Regions from separate parts of the Homo sapiens genome. Here region 2 is linked to region 1. Evidence: fine-mapped expression QTL. A gene starts in region 1. The other region holds a variant in brackets. All regions are shown on one strand. Distances are from middle to middle.

What was found. PIP is the estimated chance that this variant, and not a neighbour inherited with it, causes the effect.
Region 2: its variant is the best candidate, but not a certain one, in a credible set for the expression of ZDHHC1 in thyroid (GTEx, PIP 0.84).

Annotation. Positions count from the first base shown.
Region 1 is chr16:67,414,047-67,418,437 of GRCh38, reverse strand. ZDHHC1 (zDHHC palmitoyltransferase 1) reads left to right here and starts at 1,961. Exons shown (of 12, transcript NM_001323627.2): 1 at 1,961-2,267. LOC124903702 (a long non-coding RNA gene) reads right to left here and starts at 2,535. Exons shown (of 2, transcript XR_007065093.1): 1 at 2,295-2,535. RefSeq lists an enhancer at 1,415-2,072 and a silencer at 1,905-2,294.
Region 2 is chr16:66,951,284-66,955,674 of GRCh38, reverse strand. It overlaps LOC107984881 (a long non-coding RNA gene), which reads left to right and starts at 1,476. Exons shown (of 4, transcript XR_007065090.1): 1 at 1,476-1,552; 2 at 2,768-2,872. RefSeq lists silencers at 3,823-4,023, 4,023-4,223. The variant G/T (reference allele first, on the strand shown) is at 2,037.

The DNA of each region.
Region 1 (4,391 bases):
TCGATCTCCTGACCTCATGATCCACCTGCCTTGGCCTCCCAAAGTGTTGGGATTACAGGTGTGAGCCACTGAGACCAGCTGAGAGATAAGATCTTACTTTCACCCAGGCTGGAGTGCAGTGGCATGATCGTAATTCACTGCAATCTTGAACTCCCGAACTCAAGTGATTCTTTTCTCCTGCCCCAGCCTCGTGAGTAGCTGGGACTATAGGCACAGGCCACCAGGCCCAGCTATTTTTTTTCATCTTTTGTAGAGATGGGAGTCTCTCTATGTATCCCAGGCTGGTCTCAAACTCCTGGCTTCAAGTGATTTTCCTGCCTCAGCCTCCTTAAAGTGCTGGGATTACAGGTGTGAGCCACTGCATCCAGCCTCATCCTTCACCTTGATTTCTGGGTCATGATCTCTGTTTGACCCGAAGTTTTCCAATTCCAGATAAGAGTTAAGTAGTCAGCTTGTACTCTGAAGCCAGAATAGCATTGATATTTATCTCACATTGAGTTTGAGTTTATCAGTCTTGAAAACAAGAATTTAAGTAATAGGTTATGTCACTTGCACAAGGACCCACACACCTGTCATGTGACAGAGAAGGAGTAGTTATGTTGCCTAATAAAACATACAATAAGTATGCTTGTGACTTATACATTTTAGAGATAAGGATGTTTTCTTTCCCTATCTGTCATATCTGCCTTGGAGATGCGCACAGGACAGATAGCAGAAGACAAAGTGTCTTCCTGTCTTTTGAGAAAGCCTGAGCTCATAGAAGATTCCATTCTGAGTGTCCACAAGGAGAAGAGGAGAGGGGACTTTTAGGGAAACCAAGTTAGCAGGGAAGTCTCCCAGGTAGAGAAAGGGAAGGGAGGCTGCAGGCCATGGAGCAGAGGAAGCAGGTGTCTGTCCCTGGCAGCCCCAGGGAGAGGCAGGGGCCTCAGGCAGGGATGGCCTCATAGAGCCCAAACCTGAAAATCTTTGTGGACTGGAGCAATGGTTGTGGCCTCAGTACCAGACAAAACCCTGACCAGAGAGTTTTTTGCTTATTTGTTTTTGATTGTTGTTTTTTGCTATAGGAAAACATGAGTCCTTTGGAATTACCTAGCTAAAAGGAGTACAGTGGAGACTGAGACTGAATTTCCCGGCCGGGCAGGGGCTCACGCCTGTAATCCTAGCACTTTTGGAGGCTGAGGTGGGCGGGTCGCTTGAGTTCAGGAGTTCGAAACCAGCCTGGGCAACATGGCAAAACCACGCCTCTACAAAAAAATGCGAAAATTAGTCGGGCGTGGTGGTGTTCGCCTGTAGTCCTAGCTACTCTGGAGGCTGAGGCGGGAGGATCGCCTGAGCCCAGGAGTTCGAGGCTGCAGAGAGCCGTGATCGTGCCACTGCACTCCAGCCTGGGTAACAGAGACCAGTTTAAAAAATAGAAAAAGACTGAATTTCCCATCAGCCTGGAAGATTGGGGCTTGATTTTTGCTTGATTTAAAGGCAATAAATAAATGAGATATTTTGTGCTGCTTATTTTAAGCTCTTACGCTTCTCGCTTTATATTCTGGGGTACCTGCATTTTTAGTGGTGTAATTTATTTGTCTAGATCTGTTTGCCTCTTAACCTGTAAGCTCCCGGAAGGGTCGGGATATCATGGATGTTCCAGCACATACGCTCATTGAAGTGTGCAGGTTGACTGGGGTTGGGGGAGGTCTCTTCTTGAGAGCGGTGGTCTCAGGATAGAAACTGGAAGGGGGCGCTTTTGAGATGTTAGGATTTCGGGGAGACAAGCTGTGACTCGGGAGTAGGGAAAAGCGGATTTTCTAGACGAAAGGTTAGGAAGAATCTGGGAATGGGCCGACTGGGGCACCAAGAGGGTCCCTGGCAAGCCCCGCCCTGGCCGGGGGACCGGCGCGGAGTGACGCAGCGCGGTTTGGCCGCTGTGGGGCGCCGTAGCCCGCGCCGTTGTCAGGGGAACGGGCCCAGCGCCGGACGAGGCCCAGCCAGTCTGGGTCTGGCCTGGCCGCCCCTCCAGCCTGCTGGAGCCGGAGCCGGAGCCGGAGCCGGAGCCGGAGCCGGAGCCAGAGCCAGAGCTCGAGGACTCACCGGCCCAGTCTCCGTCCGGGATGGGGCCCCGCTCCCGGGCGCGTTGCCGCCCAGTCCCGGGGACCGTCCCTACCGCGAGGGTCTGAGGCGCGGCTGCCCCGGGGAGGGTGGAAGGCCAGGCGTGGGGCCCGAACCTCTGGCTGACTTTGGCAGGGCCCATCTGGCACGGCCTCCGCGGCGCGCAGGTGAGGAGTCCCCGCCCGGTTTCTCACCTCGGAGCCTGGCTTGAGCCACGGGGTAGCGGATGCTGCCGCCTGGCCGGCTTTGGGCTCGCTTCCGCCTGGAGCCGGTGGCCTGAGTTCCAGGGCCCCGGCAGAGCGCGGGGCTTCCTTTTAGCATGCATCAAGTTCACAGATCTTCCTTGAGCGCTTACTCTTTGCCAGGCTCTGTGCCAGGCGTGGGCACAGAGGACTCCCAACAGACGTGGTCTGTCTCCAGAACCCAGAGCATTAAGGAAGGGGGCTGGGAAGCGGATGTCATACATGACTAAAGTGATTTCAGGTCGGGTTAGGCTCTCTGGTATTGAAATGGAGGGGTTGGTCATGGAGGGTCTGTTTTAAAAGGAAACCATGGGAAGAGTTTTAGTTTTTTCTTTGAGACGGAGTTTCGCTCTTGTCACCCAGGCTGGATGGAGCGCAGTGGCACGACTCGGGTCATTGCAACCTCCGCCTCCCGGGTTCAAGCCATTCTGCTGCCTCAGCCTCTGGAGTAGCTGGGATTACAGGCGCCCGCCGCCACGCCCGGCTAAGTTTTATATTTTTAGTAGGGACGGGGTTTCACCATGTTGGCCAGGCTGTTCTCGAACTCCTGACCTCAGGTGATCCACCCGCCTCGGCCTCCGAAAGCGTTGGGATTACAGGTGTGAGCCACCGTTCCCAGCCAATTTTTTATTTTTTTGAGACAAGGTCTCCCTTTGTCACCCAGGCTGGAGTGCTGTGGTGTGAACATGGGTCACCGCAGGCTCCGGCTCCCGGGCTCAAGCGATCCTCCCGCCTCAGCCTCCCAAGTAGCTGAGACTACAGATACCCGCCACCACGCTCAGCTAATTTTTTAAGGTTTTGGTAGAGATGAGGTCTTACTATTTTGCCCAGGCTGGTCTCGAGCTCCTGGTCTCAAGGGATCCTCTTGCCTCAGCCTCCCAAAGTGCTGGGATTACAGGTGTGAGCCACTGCAAGCGGCAGAAGAGTTTTTTATTTTTTGTTTATTTTTATTTTTATTTTCCAGATGGAGTCTCGCTCTGTCACCCAGGCTGGACTGCAATGGCACAATCTCGGCTCACTGCAACCTCCACCTCCCGGGTTCAAGCGATTCTCCTGCCTCAGCCCCCCAAGTCTGGGATTACAGGCGCCTGCCACCACACCCAGCTAATTTTTGTATTTTTAGTAGAAACGGGGTTTCAACATGTTGGCCAGGCTGGTCTTGAACTCCTGACCTCAGGTGATCCAGCCACCTTGGCCTCCCAAAGAAGAGTTTGGATGAGTTTCACGTTTGAAAAGCTCACTTCACTCTGGCTGCTGAGCAGCATGGTTGTGACAGACATACCGGGAAGTCAGTTGAGGGCCATCCTAGTTCTGCCAATCTAGCTGTGCCTCCTAAAATAACTCATTTAGTGTCTCTGAGCCTCAGTGTCCTCATGATGGGAGTGGGTGTTCTGTATGTTTTTTATGAGGAAGTGAGAGGCCAGTCACATCTGAAATCAGTGACTACAGGGATCTACAAGAACAGTTGGAAATGATAGGACCTTCCTTAGAGCTCTATGAGGATTGAATGAGTGAATTCCACTGAAACAGTGCCTGGCACAGAATAAGTGCATTCTAAATGCTGGTGTTGGTTATTATCATGCAAACACTGTAGGAGAGCGATGCTGGAGGTTTGGATTGGGGTAATGACAGCAGAGATGGTAAAAAAGTGGCTTGACTTCCTTTACTGAAAGAGAGCTGGGTTCAGACACGGGTGAGGGGTGGTCTCTGCTTTTGTGGAACTGGTGGTTCACTGTGGGAGACGGGTTTGTAAACAGATAATCACCATGAGATGCAGTAAAAGCAACAGTGGTGCTTAATTAGCCAGATTGTTTTGTTTTGTTTTTGTTTTTCTTTCTTTGTTCTGTCACAACGTTGTTTTTAATGACTCTTGTGTGGTGGGTGTTCCCCAAGGCTGGCTCCTGCAGTCATGAGTTGATTTCCTGGTTAAAGTCAATAACCTTGGCCTCTCTTCACTGGCCTTGTTTCTATTCTGTGTTACTCCCTCCTACTTGTCCCCTTTCCTTGGCTTCATTTGTATCCCAAACAATTTGCAGTGGTTGCTTCAGG
Region 2 (4,391 bases), 460 kb after region 1:
CTCGAACTTAATTATGACACAGATTCTTTTGCTCACATGTTTTCTTGCTGACCTTCTCCCCACTATCACCCTGCTCTTCTGCCGCATTCCTCTTGCTGAGATGGTGAAAATAATAATCAATAAAAAGTGAGGGAACTCAGAGACCGGTGCCGGTGCAGGTCCTCCATATGCTGAGCGCCAGTCTCCTGGGCCCACTTTTCTTTCTCTATACTTTGTCTCTGTGTCTTATTTCTTTTCTCAGTCTCTCATCCCACCTGATGAAATATACCCACAGGTGTGGAGGGGCAGGCCACCCCTACACTGATGAATTAATAAAGTTGCGTATATTGGCGAGGCACACCGGCTCACTTCTATAATCCCGGCACTTTGGGAGGCCGAGGCGGGAGGATTGTTTAAGCCCAGGAGTTCAAGACCAGCCTGAGCAACATAGCAAGATCCTGTCTCTAAAGAAAAAGAAAGGGAGTATATTTATACATGGAATACCACTCCACGATAAAAGAAAAGAACTACTGGTTGAATTTCAAAAACACAATTGACAGAAGCCAATCGCAAGTTATTTCATTTATATAATTAGTACTATCATATTAATTTATAATTTGTATTATTTCATTCATATTCTAGAAAATGCAAACTATAGCAACAGAAAGCAACTCGATGGTTGCTTAGGAGCATGGATCAGGACGATTGACTGCAAAAGGGCTTGAGGGAATTTTGGAGTGATAGAAATATTGTAAAACTCCACGTGGTGGTGTTTGCATGTCTTATACATTTACTCAACGTGATCAAACTGCACACTGAAAATGGGTGAGTTTAGGCCAAGCACAGTGGTTCACATCTGCCTGTAATCCTACCAATTTGGGAGGCCTAGATGGAAAGATCACTTGATCCTAGGAGTTGGAGACCAGCTGGGTAACCTAGTGAGACTTCGCCTCTACCAAAAATAAAAAATAAAAAAATTTAAGTTCTCCAGCCATGGTGGCATGTGCCTGTGGTCCTGGCTACTTGGGAGGCTGAGGTGGGGGATGGCTTGAGCCCAGGAGGTGGACGCTGCAGTGAGCTGTGATTGTGCCACTGCATTCCAGCCTAGGTGACAGAACGAGACCTTGCCTCAGAAAAAAAAAAAAAAAAAGGGTGGGGGGAGGTAAATTTAATTGTAAGTTATTTCACTATAAAGCTGTTAAAAAATAACTATTAAGTCTAAACAGTAATCCTGGGAATGTATATTGGGAAACTATATTGTACCTCTGCAGAACTGAAAAACATACAGAGACAGGCATGCAGCCGGTGTTCAATAAATGCTTTCAGAATGTAGTGGAAACATTATGCACCAGTGTTTATTGAAAGGAAAGTCTCCCTGCTCTCTCAAGTTCAAGTCAGCCCAGGTTTAACATTATCCTTGTCTGCCACCTGGTGGCCCAAATGGGCAAAGTGGGTGTCCTGGTCTTTCGCTCCAAACTTCAAAAAGCTGTAGTTGGGCTTAAAGGCCGTGGATGGAAAGAAGGGAGACTTTCGCCCTGGAAATCCGGTGCCCCGAGAGGCAAGTTGGTCAGAGGTAGGGGTATAAGGGGATTATTAGGGTCTATGGGACTAGAATACAGCCTCTTAATGACAGAGGGAATATACTTTGGTGAAACCAAGAGGCCGATTGAACACAATTGGCCACCTTTGCACACTGAGATAAAATATGAGGAGGATTTTTGCGAAGCCAGGAAGGAGAAAAGTTTAGGGACAACAATGAGGTAAGTAGGAAAATAATCATATGGACACACATGGTGAGTTCGGGGATGCTCAGGGGGCTGAAAGGTTGGCAAGGGAATTCTGAAAGGCCAGAGAACATCTCCCTGGGTGGAGAGGCTCCTGGGAGCCAGGGAACAGGAATCTCTTTTCTTAGATATGCCTGGACCTTTGGACCCTCAATCCCACTTCCGGGGCACACCCCACAGGTAAACATCTTCGCGAGTGTGCTACGATCCTGTGAGTAGGGGCCTTACAGTGTCTGTAGAACCACTGAGAAGAAGAGCAACCTTCAGGAGACG[G/T]CCACTGAGGAATCGGCTTGGCTTTCCTGGCAACTGTACAGGAGGCCCAGGCTCAGGGGCCTGTGGACAAGCCCAGTCTTGCTTCTTACAAAAATGGGTTGAGTCACCTCTGCAGGACACAGATAGGCGAGGAGGTGGCTTGTTTTTGTTTGTTTGTTTTTGTTTTTGTTTTTAGATTGAGTCTTGCTCTGTCACCCAGGCTGGAGTATAGTGGCACAATCTCAGCTTACTATGATCTCCGCCTCCAGGGTTCAAGCAATTCTCCTGGCTCAGCCTCCCAAGTAGCTGGGATTACAGGGATGTGCCACCACGCTTGGCTAATTTTTGTGTTTAGTAAAGACAGGGTTTCACCTTGTTGGCCAGGCTGGTCTCGAAATCCTGACCTCAGGTGATCCACCTGGCTTGGCCTCCCAAAGTGCTAGGATTACAGGCATGAACCACCGCACCTGGCCTGTAAAGGTGGCTTGTTTTAAATGTCAATGATAGACGACATTTAGTGGGACAAAAGGGGAGTATAGGAACTTTTACATTTTCAGTAGTTGGTGACCTTGGTGGCTGAAATCTGGGAGCTCTAAGTGCTATGGTTTAAATGTTTGTATTGCCTCAAAAATTTGTATGGTGAAACCTAATCCCCAATGTGATGGTGTCAAGAGGTGGGGACTTCAGGAGGTGAAGGGGATTAGTGTCCTTACAAAAGAGGCCAGATGGAGCTTGTTTTCCCTTTCCTCCAGGGGAGCACACAATGAGAGGCTGCCATCTATTAACCAGAGAACAAGTCCTTGCCAGACAGCAAATCTGCTGACACCTTGATCCTGGACTTCTAAGCCTCTATAACTGTAAGCAATACATTTCTGTCACATGAAGGCACCCAGTTTATAACATCAATCTGTAAAATTTTTTTTTAAGTTTTATATCAGTATAGGAAACTTTTTTTTTTGAGACAGGGTCTTGCTGTATTGCCCAGGCTGGAGTGTAGTGGCACAATCACGACTCACTGCAGCTCTGACCTCCCAGGCTCAAGTGATCTGCCCGCCTCAGCCTACTGAGTAACTGAGACTACAGGTGCGTGCCACCACATCCAGCCAATTTTTGAATTTTTTTTTTGTAGAGATGGCGTTTCTCCAAGCTGCCTAGGCTAGCGTCAAAGTCCTGGGCTCAAGTTCAGGAGGCCCACCTCGGCATCCAAAAGTGCGGGGATTATGGGCATGAGCCACCGTGCCTGGCCGAAACCGGTAGTATTTATTTATTTTTTTTTTTGAGACAGACCCTCGCTCTGTCACCCAGACTGGAGTGCAGTAGTGCGATCTTGGCTCACTGCAACCTCCGCTTCCTGAGTTCAAGTGATTCTTGTGTCTCAGCCTCCTGAATATGTAGGATTATAGGTGTGCACCACCAAGCCTAGCTAATTTTTGTATTTTTAGTAGAGACAGGGGTTCACCGTGTTGGCTAGGCTGGTCTCAAACTCTGGGCCAGCTACTCAGCTACTCAGGAGGCTAAGGCAGAAGGAATTCGACGCTGCATGAGCTATGATCCCGCCTTTGCACTCTAGTCTAGGCAACAAAGCAAGACCCAGTCTCCAGAAAAAACATAGTGTGACTGCTGTGGGGATCAGGGAGGGAGGAAGTGATGGAAAATTGCCTAACAGAGAAAATCAGTCCTCTTAATCGATAAAGAATTTCTACAAACAAAGAATATGTCATGTATACAACAGAAAAAGTAGCATAAGAATGTGTTCAGAATAAGCACTACAAATCAGTGTCTCTCAAATAAACGAAGAGATCTTTAAGTCATTCATAGTAAGAGAAATGCACATTGAATTCTCACTGTGATGTCAACCACTCATTTTGTGGTATCCCAACAAGCAAGATAATCAGACGTTACATATTTTCTATCAGAAGTATGCAGCACCACATGTGAAGTGGTCCTCCAAAAAACAAAACAAAATAAAACCTAAAACCCAAATCTGATTATGCCTCTAGAATATAAATACAAGTTTACACAGTAGACAGGGGATAGAAGAACTGTTAAAAGACACCACCCGGATGCAATCAGCAAAACCTAAATGGTGGGATCCTCTCCAGAACAAATAAACTGGTTTCTTCCACATGCAACAAAATTTAGAAAGAAAATTAAAGAGAGGCAGATGGTAAATCTGAAGACTGAAAGAGATTCAAGAAACACATAAAAATGACAGATAATAATAAGTGTTGGTAAGGATATGGAAAACTTGGAACTTTCATACATTGCCAGGGGAAAGGAAAATGGTGCAGCTGCTTTGGAAAACAGTCTGGCAGTTTTTCAGGGGATTAAACATGGAGTTGCCATATGACTCAGCAATTCCACTCCTAACTATAA